Linked DNA regions of Homo sapiens. The protein of the gene in region 2 interacts with the protein of the main gene of each other region in a pairwise test. Each region holds a gene or a part of one and is shown on either strand. Other genes may lie near its edges. The genes, in order: EXOSC7, EIF4ENIF1, LLPH, WTAP, NXF3, SUPV3L1 and RPRD1B.

Region 1 (3,500 bases), on a different chromosome or scaffold from region 2:
TGGCAGGCTGCAGATCCGGAGCCCTGCCCCGTGGGAAGGCAGCTAAGGCCCAGCAAGAAATTGAGCACAGCAGCTGCTGGCCCAGGTGCTAAGCCCCTCACTGCCTGGGGCCAGCTGGCTGCTCCAGAGTATGGGGCCCGCCTAGCCCACACCCACCCGCTGAGCCCATGCCCACCCAGAACTCGCGCTGGCCCGCAAGCACTGCCCGCAGCCCTGGTTCCCACCCACGCCTCTCCCTCCACACCTCCCAGCAAGCTGAGGGAGCCGGCTCCCACCTTGGCCAGCCCAGAAAGGGGCTCCCGCAGTGCAGCGGCGGGCTGAAGGGCTCCTCAAGTGCTGCCAAAGTGGGAGCCCAGGCAGAGGAGGTGCCGAGAGCAAGCGAGGGCTGTGAGGGCTGCCAGCACGCTGTCACCTCTCAATATCTTCCAGGGAGGAAAGGTGCTGGGGGAAGGATGGGCTGCACAGGACCTTCCACCTGATTTGTGATGTTTATTTTCTGTCATTGAAAAGTTAAACGGGTGAAAGACCTGAAGCAAGTATGGCAGAGGGTGATCATTGGTACTGTGTGGTGCTGCAGTGTTTTGCTTTTTTCTGTTTAATTTCTCAAAAAAGTCAGTCACATATGCAGTTAGCCAGGCAGTTTAAAGATAAACTGTCAGTCACATACTTTAGAGCAGTGTTTTATTTTATTTTTTATGTTTCTGGGAAGCATCAACTCCTTGGAGAATCTGATTAAGCTAATGATTCTTTTTCTGAAAAAAACTGCTTTTGAAAAATGTTTACAAAGAATGAGAAGGAGCTCCATGAGCCAACGTGGAATGATTTCCTGCATATATATAGTTAAGTGTTAAAAAAAAAAAAAAAAGTAAGAGTATCTATAGTATTCCACCCTTCATATAAGAAACAAGGAGATATTAAAAAATTCATGTATTTGCTTATTTGTGCAGAGAAAATACAAGAAAGATAAACCTGAAACTGAAGAGAAACCTAGGGTGAATGGGAAGAAAGGGGCATGAAAATAGCATAATACGGAGGAGAGTGACATTTCTCTGAGCATACTTTTCTGAGTTTTCTCTCAGAACTATAGTGATAGCTCACAAACTCAGAAAGTAAATAAGTAATTAAAAGTAACCATGATGTGGGGGAACCCAAAATGGAAAACAAAAATTTACAAATGAAAATTAGCCAGGCATGGTGATGTGCCTGTAATTCCAGCTACTTCAGAGGCTGAGGCGGGAGAAGCGCTTGAACGCAGGTGGCGGAGGTTGCAGTGAGCTGTGCCACACTGCACTCCAGCCTGGGCGACAGAGCCATAGTCTAAAAAAAAAGTTACAAGTTACAAATGAGCCTGTGTTACAAGTGAGTAATGTAACCACACTGAAGGGCACGTAGAAGAAAAGAACTGAAGTAACTGGAAAACAGTATTTTGCCTGGATACTCTGAGGCTAAAGACAGAACTTTACACAAATACTGTGTGCTATTAGTAAATTTGTTTCTCACAGGGGTATGGGTTAGAAGTTCAGAAACTGTGTATACTAAGATTGAACAAATACAGAAATACATGTTAGATAATAAGAGCCAGCTTTCTCCTTCTTTGAGAAAGAAGTTACAAATAAGAAACAGAGGAAGGTTAGAATGAACCATGTGATGTTAGATTGGAATTGATCTATCAGTATGAACTCTTGGCTTTTTAATAGATATGTAGATAGATACAGAATTAAACAGATTTGTGTGTGTGTGGTGGGGGTGGTTAGTATACATAACTGTATTTTCTAGCTCTGTCTGCTGAGAAGTTCTGGAAGAAATAATACTCCAACAGCAATGAACTTAGAGCCTAGTTCCTGGTTTTAAGTACCATTCCCCAATAAAAGCAACCAGGGCTCCTTGGAGAAAGGCTTGATCCCTAGGGCTGGGCAGAGAAGACACAAGAGGATAGATATCTTGTGTTGCAGAAAGTAGATAATTACTCAAAAAGTTGGAGGCATGTTGAAAGAGCACAAAAACTAACCCAAAGAAGCCCCCAGTGGCCAAATTTGGAACACTTTGAGCAGCAAAATAACTAATGATAGTAGTGGATTATAACCATAGCATAAAAGATACCAATGAGTTGTACTGATACAAGTAATTGAAGGAGTAAATAAATGGGCAGAAGGAACAGGCAGCGCGTAGACCACCCTGAAAACCATCTTCTGCCAAAAGAGTCAGCAAACTTCCTGTAAAGGACTGGATAGTAAAGATTTGGGGCCTTATGGGTCATATCTCTGGCCCAACCACTCAGCTCTGCTTTTGTAGTGCAGAAACAATCATAGACATTACCTAAACAAGTGGGCATGGCTATGTTCCAGTAAAACTTATTTACAAAAACAAGGGACCTTAGTTTGTTGACCCTGTTCTAGAGACTGCCTCTTTAGAAGATTAGGTGTCTTTCACTATTTACACAGTAGATCTTGTTGAGTTTTAGGGGTAGGAGGGCTTCAGTTGAGATGATTGTACTCTGTAGCTCTGACAACATATACTTCTTGGTGCAATTTAAGAATTGCAGATTTAGAGAGAGGTGGCTTATTTTGTCTCTTGTTCAGATCTTGTTTTTGTGTGCATATTCTATATAGTGGTATGTAGTATAGATTTTGCAATCAGACACAACTGGCATGGAAAACTAGCTTTGTTTTCACTAGCTGTAGGACCTTGGACAAGTCGCTCAACTTCTCTGAGTCTCCATTTCCTCATATGTAAAATAGTAATGTTGTTGTTAGCTACAAGGACAGAATTTTAGATGATCCACTAAGAGGAAAAGAGATATTCTGCATATATCTTCTCTAGGGGGAAAATGGGTGAGTCCGTTTAGGAGTTATTGTTGATCTGGGGTGACTATAGGACTGTGGTTGTTAACACCTAGGAAGACCTCCGTGTGGATGGCCGTGGCTGTGAGGACTACCGATGTGTCGAAGTGGAAACTGATGTGGTGTCCAACACTAGTGGGTCCGCCAGGGTCAAGCTGGTGAGTACTGTGACCATGGTTCAAGCCCAGGTGGAGAAATGAGTAGGCCCTAAGGAATGAGCTGCTGACGCTGTCTGGCTTTTGGAATGCAAATTGCTCTTGGGGAAATCGAAGATCCGAGCCAAACTCAGGGAGGGGGGGTCTATCCAGATCTGAAAAGACTGCTCACCTCCTCCAAAGACCACTTTCCAAGTCTTAGCACTGCTCCTAAAAGAGTCCCCCAGGGGTGTATGTCCAGAAGAGGAGGGAGGTGGTGGAGTACCTGGCTGCATACTCTGAGTGAGGACTCTTCTTGCATGTGTCTGCAGGGTCACACAGACATCTTGGTGGGAGTGAAAGCAGAAATGGGGACGCCGAAGCTGGAGAAACCAAATGAAGGCTACTTGGAGTTCTTTGTTGACTGGTCAGTACTGTCTATGCAGATATTTCTAAAGATAAATGATTTTAAAGATGAAGATTCAGAAAATGAACCTCTGGTTTGCTGTTGAACCCACTTTTATAC
Region 2 (3,500 bases):
TTAAGGCTTTTTTCCTTTTCTGCCTCCCGTAGAAGGGGGACTGTTTTATTCTTGCAAGTACAGTACCTGCACGAGAAGTCTGCTTTTTAAGTCATGTGTGGCTCTTCTACATGTATACTGATGGCTGAAGCCACAGAGGGACACTGGAGTGATTTACTTATCAGACGGTTTTTGTCCTGGTTTTGCTTTCAGGTATAGTAGAGTGCAATGGAGGAGTGGCCGAAGAGGATGAAGTGGAGGTCATCCTTGCACAGGAGCCTGCGGCTGATCAGGAAGTGCCAAGGGATGCTGTCTTGCCTGAGCAGTCCCCAGGAGACTTTGACTTTAATGAGTTCTTTAACCTTGATAAGGTGCCATGCTTGGCTTCGGTGAGTGTAGCAGCACACTTAAAAAATGTGTGGTTAAATTTGACCTGAGTATTTAAGACATCGGTTTGAAAGTGTTGTTTTGCTAGATGCTTTTGGGGTTTTTGGCTTTTATTCTTACATATTTAAATTTTTGTTGGCTTTGTTTTGAGAGGCTTAATGGATAATATGAGATTTTTGTACCAGTTAACTCTTTTTTAAGCTGGTGGTGTTAGACTAAAAATTCTTTTTTTGTTGTTTTTTTTTTTTTGAGTTGGAATCTTACTCTGTCACCCAGGCTGAAGTGCAGTGGCACGATCTTGGCTCATTGCAACCTCCGTCTCCTGGGTTCAAGCGATTCTTCTGCCTCAGCCTCCTGAGTAGTTGGGATCACAGGTGTGTGCCACCATGCCCAGCTAATTTTTGTATTTTTAGTAGAGATGGGGTTTCACTATGTTGGCCAGACGGGTCTTGAACTCCTGACCTTGTGATCCTCCTGTCTTGGTCTCCCAAAGTGCTGGGATTACAGGCGTGAGCCACCGCACCTGGCTTTTTAAAGTTATTTTTAGAATTCCTGTTTATCACTAAGATGCTTATATTTTGGATACACTCCCCAATTTTTCACAGTGATGTATCATGCTTATCTTATATTTTAATTAATACAAAATTAGTGCACTTAAAAGTCAGCATTATTTAAGGTATGAGCATCTACAGGTGGAATGTGATTGAAATTGTCTAGATAATTCCTCTGAAAATAGAAATTCTGGAAACAATAATTAGGGTCTTGAATTAAAATCCCTTCAAAAGAAGTATATTGTGGCTTAATTTGGGTATGGATTATGAAAACATTCTTCCAGATAAGAACAAAGAATAAATCTAAGCTTCCCCTGCTTAACTTTGGAAACTGTGGGTTCCAGATTTCAAATAAAACAGTCACTAATTCTGTCATCCATGTACCAGTTTTTGAAAAAGCATGTTTTCTGTTTATCAGTGGGATTGACGTGAAAGTATATGACTTATTTTCAAGGATATGTCTGATTTTTGGATAGATGTTTGCTCTATCTTGTCTTTTCTAAATATTGATAAGAATACTGCAAAAAATCAATTTGGATATTTGACTGAATTTATGGTATGATTTGAATTGAAAAATTTTTTAAATGCTTAAATCTAGTTTTTAAGAAAGATTGGCACTATTTCATAATTTCTACCAAAGCAATTTATTGTTCATAGTGTGTTATTTAATTGTCCTTATTAAATGTAAACTATGGAGGTTGGATTTGGAAACAGAAAACACCTGAAAACTCTCTATTAATCTCAAACAGAAATTAGAGATCAGTTGAAATTTCATCTTCCACAATCATACTTTTTCTAAACTTTGACTTGGAATTACAGTCTTTATGAGCTCTGCTTTTTTAGCCTTTGGCTTCTGAAACTCTCAAGATTGAATTTCATAATGTTCATTACAACCTTGAAACCACTAAGTTTGAAGCAATGGTTTTCTTTCATCAGTTCCCCATACTTGATATTTAGTTGAAGGTCACTCATCAGCTTGTCAGTGGAATGCTGTGGCATTGACACTGTTCTCTGAGAACATTTGGTAGTACGTGGATTTACTCCTGAGGCAAAGGATAGAAACCCAAAAACCTTTTTGTAGCATAGAGGCTTTGCTTTATATTCTTAGAAAGTAGTGGTGGTTCATGCCTGTAATCCCAGCACTTTGGGAGGCCAAGGCAGGTGGATCATTTGAGGTCAGAAGTTCGAGACAAGCCTGGCCAACATGGTAAAAACCCATCTCTACTAAAAATAAAATTAAAAATAGCCAGGCATATGGTGGCGTATGCCTGTAGTCCCAGCTACTCGAGAGCCTGAGGCATAAGAATCACTTGAACCTGGGAGGCAGAGGTTGCAGTGAGCCAAGATTGCACCCCTGCACTTCAGCCTGGGCAACAGAGCGAGACTGTCTTAAAAAAATAGTAGACCGGGTGTGGTGGCTCATGCTTGTAATCCCAGCACTTTGGGAGGCCAAGGCGGGCGGATCACAAGGTCAGGAGATCGAGACCATCCTGGCTAACACGGTAAAACCCCGTCTCTACTAAAAATACAAAAAATTAGCCGGGCGTGGTGGCAGGCGCCTGTAGTCCCAGCTACTCAGGAGGCTGAGGCAGGAGAATGGTGTGAACCCGGGAGGCGGAGCTTGCAGTGAGCCGAGATCGTGCCACTGCACTCCAGCCTGGGTGACAGAGCGAGACTCTGTCTCAAAAAAAAAAAAAAAAAAGTAATAAAAAATAAAAAAGGAAAGTAAGTAGATGGTTATACTCAAGTTTGGGTTATTCAGAAATTACCCAGGATGGAGGAAGAAAAAGGTGTTCAAATTCCTAGGTTCTGAGAGTATTTATCTTCAGGTCACGAGCATGAAAGGAAGTTTCAAAGTAAGTGACCCTTTCATAAGATTTAAACCTTCTTGTCCTTTTTCATCTAGAAACTATTAGTTTTTATTGTCTTTTTCTTCAGATGATAGAAGATGTTTTGGGAGAAGGGTCAGTCTCTGCCAGTCGGTTCAGTAGGTGGTTCTCTAACCCGAGCAGATCAGGAAGCCGATCCAGCAGTCTTGGGTCAACACCACATGAAGAGCTAGAGAGACTTGCAGGTAAAATGGCTTCAGATTCTGCCCTTGAAGGTAAACCTGGGTTTTTCCCTGATATGGTTCATTTTATCTTCATTAGTCAGGAGTCAATTAGGGTCAAAGGGTCTCTGGACAACTGAAAAGCCTTCAATTTGTGTCCTTTTAATATTGTTGAAGGGGCCGGGTGCAGTGGCTCACGCCTGTAATCCCAGCACTTTGGGAGGCCAAGGCAGGCAGATCACAAGGTTAGGAGTTTGAGACCAGCCTGGCCAACATGGTGAAACCCCCATCTCTACTAAAAATACAAAAATCAGCCAGGCGTGGTGGCGGGCATCTGTAGTCCCAGCTACTCAGGAGGCTGAGGCAGGAGAATCGCTTGAAACTGGCAGGCGGAGGTTGCAGTGAGCCGAGATTGCGCCACTGCACTCCAGCCTGGGCGAAAAAGCGAAACTCCATCTCAAAGAAAAAAAAAAAAAAAAAGAAAGAAAGAAAAATACTGTCGAAGGCATGTTTCTTTACTGGAACAGATTAAT
Region 3 (3,500 bases), on a different chromosome or scaffold from region 2:
GTTCTGAGCACATGTGAGTTACAACAACATTTCTCATATTAAGTGATTCCTTGAGTTCAGTAAGCATACCTACACTTCTAAGGGATACACCTTAGATGTAATGAACTGATTAGGAATGACTGGCCATTTCTTAAGAACTTGAACTAAATTATAATGAACTGAGAACGAACTTCTAATGAACTCGATGGAGTAGTCAGCAGCAGGGTTGTAATGGCAGAGACAGGCACTCAACAGAGAAGACCTGGACACATCCTGGGGCTGGCATACTTTTCCTAGCTAGGTAACACCCAGAGATCCAGCTCTACTGATAGGAGACTTGGCAGGAAGCTCAGTGCAAACATGCTGTGGTACACCTATCACCTTCTCCACTGTGAAGGACATGCTCAGAGTCCCTCACTGGGACCTCCTTATCAGGATACACAAAGTCTTCTATTATCTCGACTACCTGGCATTATATTAGATATTTGCCATTGTTTCCACAGTATCTAGAATAGTGTCTGGTATATAACAGCCACTCAATAACTAGGTGTTGAATGATTATTTTAGGTGCTGTTCTAGTTTATGGGGATATAGTGGTCCATATGAACTCCTAGCCCTCACGGAGTTTACAGTGTTCTGTTGACGGGAGAATAACACAGCAAACAGAAAGAAAACCTCAGCCAGGTATAGTATCTATAGGCATTTGTAGTCTCAGCTATTCGGGAGACTGGGGTGGGAGGATCATTTGAGGCCAGGAGTTCAAGGATGTTGTGGGCTTGGTCACGCCTGTGAACAGCCACTATACTCCAGCCTGGGCAACAAAGTGAGATCCTGTCTCCCCGCAAAAAAAAGAACTGGTAGGCGCTGGTAAGAACATGTTAAGATAATGAGGTTTTTAAGCATGGCAGTGATATAAACTGATTTACCTTCTGAAAAGATCACACTGGTGGATATGTAGAAGATAAATGAGAAGGGAACAAGAGCGGAAGAGAGAAGTAAAAAGGCTCCTATAATAGTACAGGCAAGAGATGACGGCCTTCTGAATCAAGGTGAAAGCAGGAAAAAAATGGATACAGATTTCTAATGTATTTTTGGGACAATCAGTAAGACTTGCTAATGGTTTAGATGTGGGGAATAAAGGAAAGAGGAATCAAGGATGACTACTAGGTTTATGGCTTAAGAAATCAGGCAGGCAGTTGAAAGAGTAGAAATAAGGAAAAACATGAACTTGAGGGTAGAGATGAGAGCCAAATTGATAACAAATAGATTACTAAATGGGGAGACTCCCTCAGTCTCAGTCTCACCACCCTTTAGCTCCTAAAATATCTAAGAATAAGGGCATCCAGAATTCCCCAGGCAGGACATAAGATAATTTCTCTCTGGGGATGATGAGGAAAAAAAAAGACTTAACAGATTCTGATACAGGAGATCTCCGAATAAAACCTCCTGGAGCCATTCCAAATCTTCTATACATCTAGCAGTTGACAGACCCTCTCCCACACCTTGTCTCCCTCCAGCTTCCAATCATCATTGTAGTGCCACACTTTTAAATACAAACAATGACCACTGATCACCAGACATTTGAGAAAAGCTTCTAATATGAAAGAAAGAGACAAAAGTAAAGGAATGGAAGGGCTTGGGAGGGAATTCCAAGAGGAAAGACAGATAATACATACCATAAATAAAAATTTCAAAAGCAAATTGTAATTAATACCCTTAGGAGAAGATATATGCCCATTAAGAACACAGAGTTGATGACTCAAGGGGCATTTACAAAACACAAAGAACACAAAGCTATGAAAAAGGAACAGTAGGCCAGGCGCAGTGGCTCACGCCTGTAATCCCAGCACTTTGGGAGGCCGAGGCGGGTGGATCACGAGGTCAGGAGATCGAGACCATCCTGGCTAACATGGTGAAACCCCGTCTCCACTAAAAATACAAAAAATTAGCCGGGTGTGATCGCAGGCGCCTGTAGTCCCAGCTACTAGGGAGGCTGAGGCAGGAGAATGGCGCGAACCCGGGAGATGGAGCTTGCAGTGAGCCGAGATCATGCCACTGCACTCCAGCCTGGGCGACAGAGTGAGAGTTCATCTCAAAAAAAAAAAGTAAAAAAAAAAAGAAAAACTTTTAGAAATTAAAAATATAAGAGAAAACCAAGTAATAAGAACCAGAATTCAAGGTCAAGGAAATTAGAGGGTATAACAAAATAAATAGAAAACAGGAGAGAAAAGAAAACAGGATCAATCCAAAAGAATCAAGAGTGGATGTGGGCATCTGGTATCTAGAACATATAAAGAACTCTTAACAACCCGATAATAAAAAGACAAACAACGTAATTGAAAAACGAGGCAAAAGACTTGAGTAGACCTTTCTCCAAAAAGATAATACAAATGGTCAATCAGCATATGAAAAAATGTTCAGCCGGGTGTGGTGGCTCACACCTGTAATCCCAGCACTTTGGGAGGCTGAGGCAGGTGGATCACTTGAGGTCAGGAGTTCAAGACCAGCCTGGCCAACATGGTGAAACCCCAACCCTACTAAAAATGCAAAATTCAGCTGGGCATGGTGGCACACGCCTGTATTCCCAGCTACTTGGGAGTCTGAGGCAGGAGAATTGCTTGAACCTGGGAGGCAGAGGTTGTGGTGAGCCGAGATCATGCCACTGCACTCCAGCCTGGGCAACAGTAAGACTCCATCTCAAAAAAAAAAAACAAAAAACAAACAAACAAAAACCAAAAAACACTTCATTCAATGTCATTAGTCATTAGGAAACTTCAAATCAAAATTACAATGAGAATCTATTTCATACCCTCGAAGATGGCTATAATCCGAAAATGGAAAACAAGTATTAGTGAGGATGTGAAGAAACTCAAATACTCAAACACTGCAGGTGGGAATGTAAAATAGTGTGGCTGATGTGGAGAACATTAAAAAGAATTACCATATGACCCAGCAATTCCACTTATCAAACAAAACCTTGTGCACCTGAATGTTCACAGCAGCACTATTCACAACACCCATAAGGGGAAAGAAATCCAAATGCCCAGCAACCGTTGAATGGATATGAAACGTGGTACATGCAATGGACTATTATTTAGCCTTAAAAAGAAAGGAAGTACTGATATATGCTACAATGTGCGTGACCTTCAAAAGCACCATGCTAAGGGAAATAAGCCAGGCACAAAGGTCTCATTATATATGATTCCATTTATAAGAAATATTCAAAACAGGTAAATTCACACATGAAAAGAGCATATTAGTGGTTGCCAGAGGCTGGGGGTAGGAGGAGGAGAGACAGACTTCTTAATGGGTATTAAGTTTCCTTTTAGGGTGAGGAAAGTGTTTTGGAACTAGAGGTGATGGTTGCACAACATGAATGTACTAAATACCACTGAACTGTACACTTTAAAATGGTTAATTTTATGTTATGTGGATTTTGCCTTAACAACAACAAAAAAGAACCAATAGGGAGGGGTGATGTGTGTGTGAGGAAATGAAAACAGCAAGTGAAGGCAAGTGTT
Region 4 (2,657 bases), on a different chromosome or scaffold from region 2:
TCCAAATTCTTTGAAATTTTAAATTGAAAATTAGTGTCTCTGGTTAATTGCAAAGATGATCAGTAGCCAAGTAATTTCTTCTGAACTACCTACCTTTTCAAAATCTTCAGGAATTATTTCCTGTGACTTTTGTCCTTTTATATGTAACAGTCCTTGGTTGAGAACATGGGCCTCTTTGGAGTGTTATAGAGGACCACACTATCCTTAAGGATCAGACTTGCTATGGAACTAAGGCACTGGATCAGGAATAAGGGGATTGGCCATAGTGGGCCCATAGGTAAACGTGAGTCAAACTTTGGGGCTGTAATCAGGCATATGGCAAGATGGATCAAAACAATTTTAACTTGGTTGCTTAATACAGTTGCCCTCGGTATCCATGGTGGATTGGTGTCAGGACCTCCCACAGTAAGCCCCTCATATAAAATGATGTCATATTTACATATAAACCTATGTACATCTTCCCCTTTGAGCCATCTCTAGATTAACAGTACCTAATACAATATAAATGCTAGGAAAATAGTTATTTTACTGTATTGTTTGGGGGATAATGACAAGAAAAAAAATCTGTACATGTTCAGTATAGACCCAGTTTTTTCTTCCTTGAATATTTTCCTTCTACAGTTGCTTGAATTCATTGTTGCATGTGGAGGGCCAACTGTATATTATTTTAAGTATCTGACTTCCCCCAAAACAAACTCAGTCATATTTTAAGATTCCAAGCAAAATTTTTAAATGTAGTGTGATTTTAGAATTGTATTTGTTTACTTGAGCGTTTATTGACTCCCTTGCTTTGTGGCAGGCACTAAAGAAACATTTTTCAATGTTATAAACGATATTAAAGTTGGTCTGACTCTCCTTTGCACAGAACTGAATGACTTCATCATCCAGCTTGATGAAGAAGTAGAGGGTATGCAGAGTACCATTCTAGTTCTGCAGCAGCAGCTGAAGGAGACACGCCAGCAGTTGGCTCAGTACCAGCAGCAGCAGTCTCAGGCCTCTGCCCCAAGTACCAGCAGGACTACAGCTTCTGAACCTGTAGAACAGTCAGAGGCCACAAGTAAAGACTGCAGTCGTCTGACAAACGGACCAAGTAATGGTAGCTCCTCCCGCCAGAGGACGTCTGGGTCTGGATTTCACAGGGAGGGCAACACAACCGAAGATGACTTTCCTTCTTCTCCAGGGAATGGTAATAAGTCCTCCAACAGCTCAGAGGAGAGAACTGGCAGAGGAGGTAGTGGTTACGTAAATCAACTCAGTGCGGGGTATGAAAGTGTAGACTCTCCCACGGGCAGTGAAAACTCTCTCACACACCAATCAAATGACACAGACTCCAGTCATGACCCTCAAGAGGAGAAAGCAGTGAGTGGGAAAGGTAATCGAACTGTGGGTTCCCGCCACGTTCAGAATGGCTTGGACTCAAGTGTAAATGTACAGGGTTCAGTTTTGTAATATTTTTTCAGCAAATTTTTATACAGTGTCATTTAATTTGGGAGAGGATACTGTCCAGAAAATTAATGCATACTTTTGTCACAATTTGCCTTTTTGTGGGTGTACGTTTTGGTTTTTTTTTGTTGTTTTTTTTCTTTGTTTTTTTTTTCTTTTCTTTTTTTTTTTTTTTTTTTTTTTTTGCTTCAATACTTCTGCCGCTTTGGAAATTGTAACAGTTAATTACTTTGAATGTTGCTAAAAGGACATTTTGTGTAGGGTCAAGTTATTTTTATATGAGTTAATGTGAAATTGTAAATGGAAATTTTTCCTTAAAATACAACACAATGATGTCTGTATAAATCTGTCTGTTTAGAATCTGTGCTGTGTAAGGGCATTCGTACTCATGCTGTTACTGTACTTATGCACCATTCAGACTTGTTAGAGTAGATGTGGGTTTATGACTGCCAAGTTTGCCCAGTACAGTAGTTTTTTATCACTAAAAGTTGGACTCATTGATGGAGTCCTGTAGTAGTTTCAGTGTTAGATACAGTTTTTTCCACCATACATCTGTGCATTTTCTCTTTAGGTGACTGTTTAAGAAATTTGTGTGCATAGTTACTCAGTTTTTATGAACTGTTGTATCCTGTTAATGCATATTGCTCTGTGACTCCAGTATATCTTACCTGTACTGACCAAACCTAAATAAAGATTTTTATTGTAACTCCTTAATTAGCTTTTTTGTTTTGTTTTGGGTGTATGTTTAGCATTTGTCATTTTCATTGAGTCATTGAATTTCTACTCATTATCCTTCAAGTACCACAACAGTCAAACTTAAGACCAAGCATCGATTACGATTTTGCACACAATTTTTAATTTATGCCTTATTTTGCAAAACGGAGCTGGAGTTTAGGGCTACACTTAAAATTTTTTCTTGACTTATAATTGTTACAAAATATTTTAAAATACAGAAAAGTATAAAGAAAATAGTCATCTATTTCTTAGGCTTTTTTTTTTTTTTTTTTTTTAATTGAGACAGGGTCTTGCTTTGTCACTTAGGCTCAAGTGCAGTGGTGCAGTCATGGCTCACTGCAGCCTCAAAGTCCTCGACTCAAGTGATCCTCCCACTTCAGGCTTCCGAGTACCTGAGACTATAGGCATATACTACCACACCCAGCTACATTTATTTTAATTTTAGTAGAGACAAGGCCTCGCTATGTTGCACAGGCTGG
Region 5 (4,035 bases), on a different chromosome or scaffold from region 2:
AGTAAGGTAGTCATTCCTGTAGAGGGATAAGATGCTTGTAGAGTTGTGGGTATCATTCCAAATAGAACTGTTATGATTTGGGAAATATTCTAAACTACAAAGGACTTATTTCATAATGACAAATTGTCCTTCACCTTTGCCTTTGTTTATAAAATCTTCAGGAATGACATTTTCTAGCAATAAAAGGAATTAACCATTATGTTTCTAAGCTGAAAAGAGGAACAGGTGGGTAATTATCCTACCATACTTAAATATAGTGGAAAATCCTCTATTGAGAATGTGGATAAAAGAACAATTGTAAATTTTGCATCATAATCTGAGAACTCCCTTTTGGGGCAGGGGGAGGCGGGAGGGATAGAAGGTGGGGGTGATCTGCTTGCTTCTTTTACCACAGGTGATTTTTAAGTAACTTGGGTTTAATTTACAGAGATGAAACATGGCAGTCTGAGTAAAACACCCAATGATGTAGAAGTGTGCCTGTTTATTACGTAGAGACAGCCAACAAAAACAGAGGAGAATCACATGCTTTAAAAAACACTTTCTCTTAGGTTTCCTTGGGATATGTTCTTCCAGTGCAGGCAAGATAGTGGTTTACAGAATTTGCTTAATACAAAACTTTTCAAGAACTCATCTGTTACACAAAAGCAAGGAATAGCTAGTTTATATTTTCCAATAATGTTCAAGGTTTTCTCCTTATTATGTCTGAAATTATTGATTTTGGCATTTTTCTAAGCAATTTATGTAATTTTATTTGAAGGAAATGTTTTATATACTCTTTTTCCCGACCTAAACAGGGAGAGTCCTAACAGTGTTGTGTTTGTATGATTATGAGGCTTTATTTGCCTAAGTGATGCTACTATACTTTTTTTTTGACCCATGCCTTTTTAAGCTGTTTCATATTGAAAGTTGGAATATTGTAAAAATTTTGTCAAAGATGTACTGAAGTGCTATTTGAAGTACCTATAACAAAACACAGTTGGTCCTCCGTATCCACGGACTCTGCCTCTGTGAATTAAACCAATTGCAGATCAAAAATAATAGGAGAGAAAAATATAAAAATAATACAAATAAAAAATACAATATAACTGTTATTTAAATAGCATTTACATTCCATTAGGTATTAGTCTAGAGATAAAGTATGCAGGAGGATGTGCGCTGGTTATATGCAAGTATGCCACTTTATGTAAGGGACTTGAGTATACTTGGATTTTTGGTATCTGTGGGTGGGCAGGGTAGGGGGGGTCCTGGAACCAATACCCCATGGATACCAAGGGACAACTGTACTTATTTACCTTTATTATTATTGCAAGCTTCTTAAGGAAACTTTATAGGAATGAAAATACACATGTTAAGAAGATTAGGCCAGGCGCGGTGGCTCATGCCTGTAATCCCAGCACTTTGGGAGGCCGAGACAGGTGGATCACGAGGTCAGGAGATCGAGACCATCCTGGCTAACACCGTGAAACCCCGTCTCTACTAAAAATACAAAAAATTAGCCAGGCATGGTGGCGGATGCCTGTAGTCCCAGCTACTCGGGAGGCTGAGGCAGAAGAATGGCGTGAACCCGGGAGGCAGAGCTCGCAGTGAGCCGAGATTGTGCCACTGCACTCCAGCCTGGGCGACACAGCAAGACTCCATCACAAAAAAAAAAAAAAAAAAAAAGAAGAAGATTAAACATTAGATATTAGATGGTCTGTTGCATGCTAGAACTGTTAGTATTGTTGGATCAATTACTTTGGTTTTATGAAAAAATTAATGATAAATATCTTTAAAGAGAACTAGAAGAATTTTTTGTTTGATTCTAGGCTGTAACATGATTATTTACGGACATAGTTTGATTGGCTGGCTAACTTAGTAGAATTAATTGGCTGGCTAACTTAGTAGAATTATTGTTTTTTTTTGTACTGCAATAGGGCTTATAATTGTAAGATAAAAATGTGTGTGTGCTTAAGGGAAGTAAGTGCTGGTTAAAATTATTGAAAAAATTTCAGAATACTTTAAAAATAAAGTTTCAAGTTATACAAAAAAAAAGAAATTCTAAATTTGTATGCATGTCTTAACATGGACCAATCTATGTTTAGATACAAAGCAAAAACTGATCTAAGTAAATAGAGAAATAGTTAAAACCACTGTGATGTGGGAATTTAACACACCTCTCTGAGTAACAGATAAAACTAGCAGACAAAAATTCAGCTACATATAGAAGATTTAAATGGCATGAGTAATAAGTTTGCTTAAATGACATAGAACACTGCACAGAAAACCTTCACATGGAACATTCCAGAATAAGTCATATGCTGGGCCATAAGGCTAGCCTTGATAAATTTCTGGGGCTGGGGTGGGAGGTAATACAATCTACCTTGAATGGTTAGTGTGAAGATTAAAGATGTATTCCCTGCCCCACTACCACCTCTAGTGTACATCCAAGGAATGTTAATTTTTACCAACCCCTGCCTCAGGTGACCCTCCTCATACCTCAAACCCTGGCCCTGAGAAGGCCACAAGACTCAGGCCTGGGCCCTTGCCACTGCCCACCCCCATCTAAAGGGAGATTGGCTGGGTGTTATGTGGGTTAGGGTAAGGTGGGGAAGGGGGCTCAGTCCCTTTTGCCCTGTGAGACCTGAGACTCCAGCCTCATGCTGGCCAACTCACCCGTAGTGTGTCCTGAAGGCAGTGACATTTTACCAATGTCCTTATAGGGCTCTCTTGAGGAGAATCTGTGTGGCCTGGGGACGGGAGTTTGGAGAAGATTGAGGAGGGCTGCTGACGAAGGCGAGAGCAAGCCTCAAGCCTTGCTTACAGGAAGTTCCTTCCCCAAGCATAGAGAGGAGTGTCCTAGGAGTCACAGAATTAACTTCCTGTTCTTACCACTCCCCAAAGTTTGCTGCCAGCCTAACACCCAGGGAGATGTTTCTAATGTAGCCACTCCTGCAAAGGTGGTTAGCAACAATCACAATCATGAGGCCTAGGACCCAGATACTTATTGAAACAAACACGGAAAACTCAGCTTGCTGGTCATCTCCAGTGCATTACATTGTATTCATTTACTCTGCAGACTCAGAGACTCAGAGACTCAGAGTGCCTATGGTAGCTCAAGCTCTGTACTTGCTACATTACTTTTTTCTCCATGTATTCCTCACAAGGGGACTCTCAACTCAGAATCACCAGCTTCCTGAAGGTGCTGAGGCTTAATGAGGTATAGGACCTTGTCTGGAATGATTCAGATGTGACCTGGAGAAACAAAGTGGAAATGAGAACCATGGAATAGTGGGTGACCCCTCTATGCACAGCTTTTCTAAACTCTTATAATATTTGGGGTTTACTTAAGTTAGGGCAAAGTAAGACAATGTTCTGCAAATACTCGTGTGACTGGAATTAACTACAGCCCATCCTAGAGAGAGAATACAAAAAACAGACCAGGAAAATATAAAGTAAAAGTTTAGTGTGTCACTGTAATGAAAGTAGAAAAGAATCAAGTATTGTCTTAAAGACAAAATAAAGTATAGTCAATGTAGATGGATACTCCTAATGATTAGAGCCAGAAATGTAGCTCTTAAAGTCTCAGGCCAGAGAGAGGGAATAAACTAGTGAGAGGTGACAGCTTGCTGGCAGCTCTCACAGCCCTCGCTCGCTCTCGGCACCTCCTCTGCCTGGGCTCCCACTTTGGCGGCACTTGAGGAGCCCTTCAGCCCGCCACTGCACTGTGGGAGCCCCTTCCTGGGCTGGCCGAGGCCAGAGCTGGCTCCCTCAGCTTGCGGGGAGGTGTAGAGGGAGAAGCGCTAGCGGTAACCGGGGCTGCGCGTGGCGCTTGCGGGCCAGCTGGAGTTCTGGGTGGGCGTGGGCTCGGTGGGCCCCACACTCGTAGCAGCCGGCCAGCGCTGCTGCCCTGGGCAATGAGGGGCTTAGCACCTGGGCCAGCAGCTGCTATGCTCAATTTCTCTCCAGGCCTTAGCTGCCTTCCCGCGGGGCAGGGCTCGGGACCTGCAGCCCGCCATGCCTGAGCCTCACCCCCACCCCCGCCTCCGTGGGCTCCTG
Region 6 (3,500 bases), on a different chromosome or scaffold from region 2:
ACTAAACTTTGTCAATCTGGACCTTCACTTGCATACCATTCTCTGATCAAAGAACTCTGTGGCTCTCCAAAGCAATAAAGTAGGGCTTTTTTTAATGCAGTTTTCATGGCACAAAATTTTCTTTCACTTATGTCTGTATCCAGAAATGTGTCTGAGGTGAGAGTCTGGATGGTGGGTGAGGGAAAGAATGACTCTCCTCCACAGAGAAGCAGTAGTTAACATGTTACCTCTTACCCTTATAGGATCCACAGGCCTCTTCAAAATTTCCTTTAATAAACTGAGATCTTCATGATTCATTGTTGTAACCTCTCCTTCTTTAAACCGTGAGCTGAATCTGCCAGCTCTGCCAGCAATCTGCAGGGCTTGAGAGGTTGTGATTGGTTCTAGTTCTCTCTCTCCCTTTTCATTGATACTGGGCTTTATAAGGGAGTAAAAAATAATTCTCCTTATGCTCCTGAAACAGAAATAAAAGTGATCCTGCAGACTGTATGAAAAACCCTCCAATACTTGGGTCATTGCATAATGCTCACTCCAATACTAGCTTAGGTCCTCTTGCAACCTTGACTGCCACTTACAAAATTAAGGAAAGTCTGGCACAGTGGCTCACACCCATAATCCCAGCACTTTGGGAGGCTGAGGCAGGAGGATTGTTTTGAGGCCAGGAGTTCAAAACCAGCCTGGGCAACATAGCAAGACCCAAGTCTCTACAAAAAATTAAAAACATCAGCTAGGTTCAGTGGTGTGTGCCTGTTGCTCTAGTACTCGGGGGGCTGAGGCACAAAGACCGCTTGAGCCCAGGAGTTTGAAGCTGCGGTGAGCCATGATCACACCACTGTACTCCGGCGTGGGGCACAGAGTGAGACTCTGTCTCAGAAATAAATAAATACATAAATAAATAATATTTAGGCTTAACATTGTTATCATTTAGAGATAATAACTAGCCCCATGTGCATAATAGGCACTCGGACACCTGACTGAGAAACTGAAAGTAAAGTGACGTAGTACAATAGGTTAGCAGTAGTGGTGGGCAGCATTCAAACGTCCTAGTGTGGGCCGAGTGTAGTGGCTCATGCCTGTAATCCTAGCACTTTGGGAGGCTGAGGTGGGAAGATCACTGGAGGCCAGGAGTTAGAGACTAGCTTGGGCAACAGGGTAAGACCTTGTCACTACCCAAAAAAAAAGAAAATAACCAGGCTTTGTGGTGTGCACCTGTGGTCCCAGCTACTCTGGAGGCTGAGGCAGGAGGATCACTTGGGCCCAGGAGTTCAAGACTGCACTGAGCTACAATTTGATCACTGCACTCCAGCGTGGGTAAAAGAGCAAGACCCTGTCCCTAAGAAAAGTCCTGGCACTATTTAATATTTTCTTTTTATTTCCCTCAATAGGTGTAGGCAAGACAAACCTCAAATCTAGCCTATAATATTTATTCTCCCAAATCATAGCGTTTGGTCATTAATGCCAATTAGAAAACTGAAAAACAAAAAAACCACCATTTAACTCACCAAATATTCATCTTATTAAAAACAAATTACTTACAAATTAAGTCCCATGCCAATTGCATCTGTAGCAACCAAGATTTTGCATGGGTCATTGGGATCATTAAACTTTTTTGCTTGAGCAAGTTTGGTCCCTAAAACAAGAACAATTTATGTTAAATCAGTGTTCTCAGTCTTTTATTACATCAAGCTAAGTACATCTTGGAAACCCTCACCTCCTGTTCTTCCCATTTTTAATGATAAAACCTTTACTGTTTCAAACTTTATTTCTTTATATCCTCAAAGAGCCACTTATCCTTTACATCCATTCCTTCAAATACTCCGTCATATAGCAACACAATCCCCCACCACACTAGCCTTATTCCTGAGGACACAGATTTCAGGACTACAACTTAAAAGGACATGGTCAAGACCAGATTTCAATGACATTTCTGTAAGAAAATAATAAACTCAACATTTAAGATACAGTCTAATAATAGCAGCAACTAACAAGAACTATAATTAAAATACTTCTATTTCCACTAAGATGAAATAGAAAATTATTTATTTTATATGACGTTTAACAAATTACCAATACATCAAGCAGCTTAATTCAATATTGTTTACCATTTTTTTATATATATCTCAACATAAATTGCAAAGATAGGAGATTTCATATCTTGTCACGAGGAAAGTCAATAATTACCAGGTGGGAGACTGCCATATATAACAGCTGATTCTAATCCCCGAATTTCAATCTGCCGACTCACAGAATAAATATCATTCTTGCTAAAACAGACAATGCAGTCCCCAGGCCGAAGGTTATCTAAAGATTCTAGTGCATGGTCCAGCACAGAAATGGGGGTAAGCCTCTTATAGTCTCGAACCTACAATAAAGACATGAAATGGCAAAATGACACACCCAACTCAACTTCTTGTGACTAGTAATTAAGTGAAAAGATTGTAATGCAGTTAAGAGTAGCTAAAAACTGATAAGTACCAATGTTTTTCAAAAGAAAACACAGAAAAACATTTATTTTGATATTATAAGTGTTACCATCACTTCTCATTGGCATCTCTAAATTAATAAGATGAAACAGAGTGTTTCACCTGTTTTCAAAGCTTTTTCTCATATATTTCATTTTCACGGCAATGTGTTAAGTTCAGAAAGGTTATTAACTGCTATTTCCATTTTATAAAATAGTAAAACTGAGCCCAATAAAAAATTAATGTCTGAGGCACATTTTGCAAGTCTAACCTTCTGTGACTTGTCTAAAGAATGCAAAGCTAAGAATGGCAAAACACAGAATGGACTCCAAAATTTCTTCCACTATATTCCACTATCTCTCCTTGAAAACTGAGCACAAAACTAAAATAACAGGCTAATTCAAAACTATTTCCTTGGCTTATGCTTATAATCCCAGCACTTTGGGAGGCCAAGGTGGGAGAATTGCTTGAGCACTGGAGTTCGAGACCAGCCTTGGTAACACAGTGAGATGCCCTCTGCTCAAAAAATAAAAAATTAGATGGGCATGGTGGCAAACACCTGTAGTCCCAGCTATTTGGGAGGCTGAAGTGGGAGGATCACTTGAGTCCAGGAGGCTGAGACTGCAGTGAGTTGTGATTGCACCACAGCACTCCAGCCTGGGTAACAGAGTGAGACCTTGTCTCAAAAAATAATAATAATAATAATAATTCATTTTACTATAGAACTCTGGTAAAGAAAAAGAGAAGCAGGATTAAAAGGAAACCAGTTACTTCCAACTCTAAGAATTTCAAAAAGGAATATAAACTGTGTCTGGCAATTAGATGTGTATCAAAGGCCCCAATATCTGACATACAACACTTTGAAAACGACAAACTTGCTGGGTCTCCAACTTCTAAGAGTACTGATTTATTTAATTCGAAGAGATCTACTCAAGCCCCACAAGGTTTTGTCAAGAAGTGAAGAATTTCCTGTACTCTTGGAAGACTTAGGGTGTGATGACCACTCTGTCAGAACTTCAGATCATGAGGTTCAATCAA
Region 7 (3,500 bases), on a different chromosome or scaffold from region 2:
ATTAATTCTTTTTTTGTTAAACTTTTTAAAGTCAGAAGTGAGGGTTCGGGAAAAAAAAGGAAAAACATTTCTACTGCTAATTTTATAAAGCTTAAAAATATGACCCAATTACTTGGTATTTGTGATAAAACACTTTTACTCCACCTTCAAAATATATCCGGAAATGAGTTATTTCTCATCTTTTCCTCTGCTATCAATCTGGCCCAAGGCACTATCATCTCTCGCCTGCATTACTACAGTAGCCTCATTACTGGTCTCCTCGCTTCCACCCTTGTCCTCCTACAACCTGTTCTCGAGTTTTCAAAATACAATTTTAGCTGCTGTACTAAGGCAGACCACGTCACTCCTTTGTTCAAAATTGCCAACATTTCTTCCCAGTATCCCTCAGAATAAAAGTCCTTATAAAGACTCCAAGGCCTTTCCCAACCCAGCTGTTATTTCCCTGGCCTCATCTCCTACCCACTCTTCCCCACCCCCGTCCTCCAACCTCCTGCCTCAACAACAGCTACCCTAGCACTGCCTCAGAGCCTTAGCACTTCAAAAGTTTGCTTTGCCTGGAACCACATTCCCCATGTGGCCACACAGCTCAATTCCTCTCCTCCTTCAGGGGTATGTTTAGTTACACCACCTTCAGTGTGTCATTCCCTAATCTCCACGTTGAAAATAACACTCCCTGCCCCTACTCAATTTTTCTCCATACAACTTTTCTGGTATGCTGTATATTCAATAGTTTACTTTTTGTTTACACGCTTTCCATTTGAATGTAATTTCCACAGGGGTGCAGATTTGTCATTTTCTCCCATTGCTATATGCCCTTGAACAAGCACAATGAATATCTGTCAAATTGTAATCTTTTCCAGAAAAATGTATATGGGTTTCGGTAAGTAATACAGTTACTTAACTTTCAACAATCATCTTACTGTATCAAGGTCATGGCAGAAATCAACTAAGCACTCCTCAGCTCGACCAATGAAGGTTTACAAAGAATAAGAAGGCCTGGGTCCTGACCTCTAGGGCTCGACTCAGCAATCCCTCAGACCTGTTTTTAGTCTCCTTTCCCTACCCTACCTGGAACTTTGCATTCCAGCAACACCCACCCGTATGTATTTGCTACTCAGAATTTGTTCTCTCATGTGCATGTGCCTTTGTTCATGCTATCTCTTCTCCTTCAAATGGAATAGCCAAAATTGAACAAGGCAAAGGGAAAGGAGTAATTCAAGTAGCTGAAGTATATGGGGGAATGTGCGGAAACTGCAGAAGAATCTGGAAGGAGGGTGGAATTCAATTACAGCGAGCCCTGAATGCCATATTAAAGCACGTGGCCTGCAGGCAATGGGAGGTCCCTAATGTGAGCAAATGTATAGCTTAGAAAAATAAAGTCATTATAATTAGTAAAACCAAATTGCAACTAATCAGAACTTAGTTAATGAACTAGCTGGTACTTTTAGCATAAAATCTGTTTGCTGCAGATTCTCTGTTCGCTTAAAAGAAAGAGAAACCAGTCTCGAGAATAAATTCTTATCAAGGACTTAGTTTAAAAGTAGGTGGGTATCACAACACACACCCACCACCCACCATTCCTGGAGATACTTGGGACTCCATTCAGGCTAAGACTGGTTTTGTGTACAGTTTCAGGCACAGTGGAAAATGATGCTCAAACCTGTTATAACCACAAAACATTTTCAAAAGGCTTTTACTACTAAAGGCCAAAAGGGGGGTTCTAGTTTAATTAGTGAATATAACTAACCAGGACAGATATTTCCTTGAACATTGTGGTAAATCAAAGTTTTGCTAGATAAGTTTCAAAGTTATACATAAAATATTCAAGAAATCTTTCTACTGATTAGGTTTTGAAGGAAGTAGCTCCAGCGAAATGGAAGTCACTTTGGCATCTGGAATTAGATACAACCAAAGTAATAAAGCCGTTTTATAACAGAAAGAGAAATATTTTCAGGTTGTACTAACTCCAATCTAAACTGAGAAATCTTTAAGTGGAAAAAAAGACTGAACAATCTTTGCCAACAATCTATGAATAAAGTGGAAGATGGCAAATAATTACATACACAACTTAATATTACGTTGAACACTTCATATTTTAATTCTGATTAATAACAAATTCAATCACTTTATTTTTCAATACAGATAGCAAAACTGACCTTTAAGAGTGAAAAATGTATATGATACACACAAACAGAATTGGCTGCTTGACGTGTCAGCTGGACACCTGAGTCCCTGCAAAGCCAGCCTTGGGGGCCTTTTCTTCCTCTACAGTTCTATGGCACTTTTTCAGTACAACCACAGTAATTTGTACAACTCTGTCTTATCTCATGCACAGCAGGCCTATGGTAGGCCTACTAAGGGCAGGAATTCTAAGTATTCCCTACACTTCCAACAGTACCTCATGTAAAGCTGGTTCAGAAAGGAGTTAACACAGAAGGCCAGACTGCTACCCTTAGGGAAGTGGTCTGGGAACTTGGGATTTCCGAGTGTCCCTACCATTTCCTAACTGGTAAGGGTGGTTTACTGGGCCTAAATTGTTTGTGCAAGCAATACGGTTCTTAATGAACACCTGAGCCTGGCGCGGTGGCTGACGCCTGTAATCCCAGCACTTTGAGAGGCCAAGGCGGGCAGATCACAAGGTCAGGAGATCAAGACCATCCTGGCTAACATGGTGAAACTCCGTCTCTACTAAAAAATACAAAAAATTAGCCGGGCATCATGGCGGGCGCCTGTAGTCCCAGCTACTTGGGAGGCTGAGGCAGGAGAATGGCATGAACCCGAGAGGCGGAGCTTGCAGTGAGCCAAGACCAAGCCACTGCACTCCAGCCTGGGCGACAGAGTGAGACTCCGTCTCAAAAAAAAAAAAAAAAAAATGAACACCTGATTTATTTCTGGGAGCTTAGAATTTTGGCAGAGGGTGTCTACATGACCAATCCAATAAAAACTCTGGGCACAGAGTCTTTAATGAGCTTTCCTGGTAGGTTACACATCATACACATCACAACTCAGTGCTAGAGGAATTAAGCGTGTTTGTGGAATAACACTGAGAGAGGACTCGGAAGCTTATACCCAGAGCGCTCCAGTCTGCTGCGGGTACTGCATGCACATCACCCTCTGCTGCTGCTGCTGCTTTGGATCCTTTAGCTGTAATGAATCACTGCCATGACTATGACTACATGATGAGCCCTGTGAGTCATTCTAGGGAATCACCAAACCTGGGAGTGGTCTTGGGGCCCACAACAATAAGTAAATATCATGTGGGTAACTCTCAAATTTATGTCTCCAGAAATCAAGTCTCTACTGAGCTTCAGACTATTTTATCCACCTGCCTATTTGGCATCACTCCTTGGAATATTCACTAGCCACCTCACACTCGGCCTGGCCAAAACAAAACTCGTGATTTCCTCCACCAAATCTTTTCCCCAATCTTCACTTCAGTAAAGGGCACCATCAGTCATTCCTTACATCAAAAACCTAGAAATCGTCTTTGATTTCTCTTT

Evidence for each region.
Region 1: the proteins of EIF4ENIF1 (region 2) and EXOSC7 interact in a two-hybrid assay, tested with the Homo sapiens proteins (one large-scale study listed by BioGRID).
Region 3: the proteins of EIF4ENIF1 (region 2) and LLPH interact in a two-hybrid assay, tested with the Homo sapiens proteins (one large-scale study listed by BioGRID).
Region 4: the proteins of EIF4ENIF1 (region 2) and WTAP interact in a two-hybrid assay, tested with the Homo sapiens proteins (one large-scale study listed by BioGRID).
Region 5: the proteins of EIF4ENIF1 (region 2) and NXF3 interact in a two-hybrid assay, tested with the Homo sapiens proteins (one large-scale study listed by BioGRID).
Region 6: the proteins of EIF4ENIF1 (region 2) and SUPV3L1 interact in a two-hybrid assay, tested with the Homo sapiens proteins (one large-scale study listed by BioGRID).
Region 7: the proteins of EIF4ENIF1 (region 2) and RPRD1B interact in a two-hybrid assay, tested with the Homo sapiens proteins (one large-scale study listed by BioGRID).

What each region holds. Positions count from the first base shown.
Region 1 is NC_000003.12:44,986,244-44,989,743, forward strand, and holds part of EXOSC7 (exosome complex component RRP42), read left to right. Parts: intron 1-2,896; coding exon 2,897-2,998; intron 2,999-3,306; coding exon 3,307-3,401; intron 3,402-3,500. UniProt on the Homo sapiens protein: Non-catalytic component of the RNA exosome complex which has 3'->5' exoribonuclease activity and participates in a multitude of cellular RNA processing and degradation events.
Region 2 is NC_000022.11:31,455,343-31,458,842, reverse strand, and holds part of EIF4ENIF1 (eukaryotic translation initiation factor 4E transporter), read left to right. Parts: intron 1-192; coding exon 193-368; intron 369-2,855; coding exon 2,856-2,991; intron 2,992-3,500. UniProt on the Homo sapiens protein: EIF4E-binding protein that regulates translation and stability of mRNAs in processing bodies (P-bodies). Plays a key role in P-bodies to coordinate the storage of translationally inactive mRNAs in the cytoplasm and prevent their degradation.
Region 3 is NC_000012.12:66,124,251-66,127,750, forward strand, and holds part of LLPH (protein LLP homolog), read right to left. Parts: intron 1-3,500. UniProt on the Homo sapiens protein: In hippocampal neurons, regulates dendritic and spine growth and synaptic transmission.
Region 4 is NC_000006.12:159,754,163-159,756,819, forward strand, and holds the end of WTAP (pre-mRNA-splicing regulator WTAP), read left to right. Parts: intron 1-865; coding exon 866-1,449; 3' UTR 1,450-2,157; downstream 2,158-2,657. UniProt on the Homo sapiens protein: Associated component of the WMM complex, a complex that mediates N6-methyladenosine (m6A) methylation of RNAs, a modification that plays a role in the efficiency of mRNA splicing and RNA processing.
Region 5 is NC_000023.11:103,090,344-103,094,378, forward strand, and holds the start of NXF3 (nuclear RNA export factor 3), read right to left. Parts: upstream 2,801-4,035; 5' UTR 2,681-2,800; coding exon 2,653-2,680; intron 1-2,652. UniProt on the Homo sapiens protein: May function as a tissue-specific nuclear mRNA export factor.
Region 6 is NC_000010.11:69,197,234-69,200,733, reverse strand, and holds part of SUPV3L1 (ATP-dependent RNA helicase SUPV3L1, mitochondrial), read right to left. Parts: intron 2,363-3,500; coding exon 2,182-2,362; intron 1,631-2,181; coding exon 1,537-1,630; intron 455-1,536; coding exon 235-454; intron 1-234. UniProt on the Homo sapiens protein: Major helicase player in mitochondrial RNA metabolism. Component of the mitochondrial degradosome (mtEXO) complex, that degrades 3' overhang double-stranded RNA with a 3'-to-5' directionality in an ATP-dependent manner.
Region 7 is NC_000020.11:38,043,746-38,047,245, reverse strand, and holds part of RPRD1B (regulation of nuclear pre-mRNA domain-containing protein 1B), read right to left. Parts: intron 1-3,500. UniProt on the Homo sapiens protein: Interacts with phosphorylated C-terminal heptapeptide repeat domain (CTD) of the largest RNA polymerase II subunit POLR2A, and participates in dephosphorylation of the CTD by RPAP2. Transcriptional regulator which enhances expression of CCND1.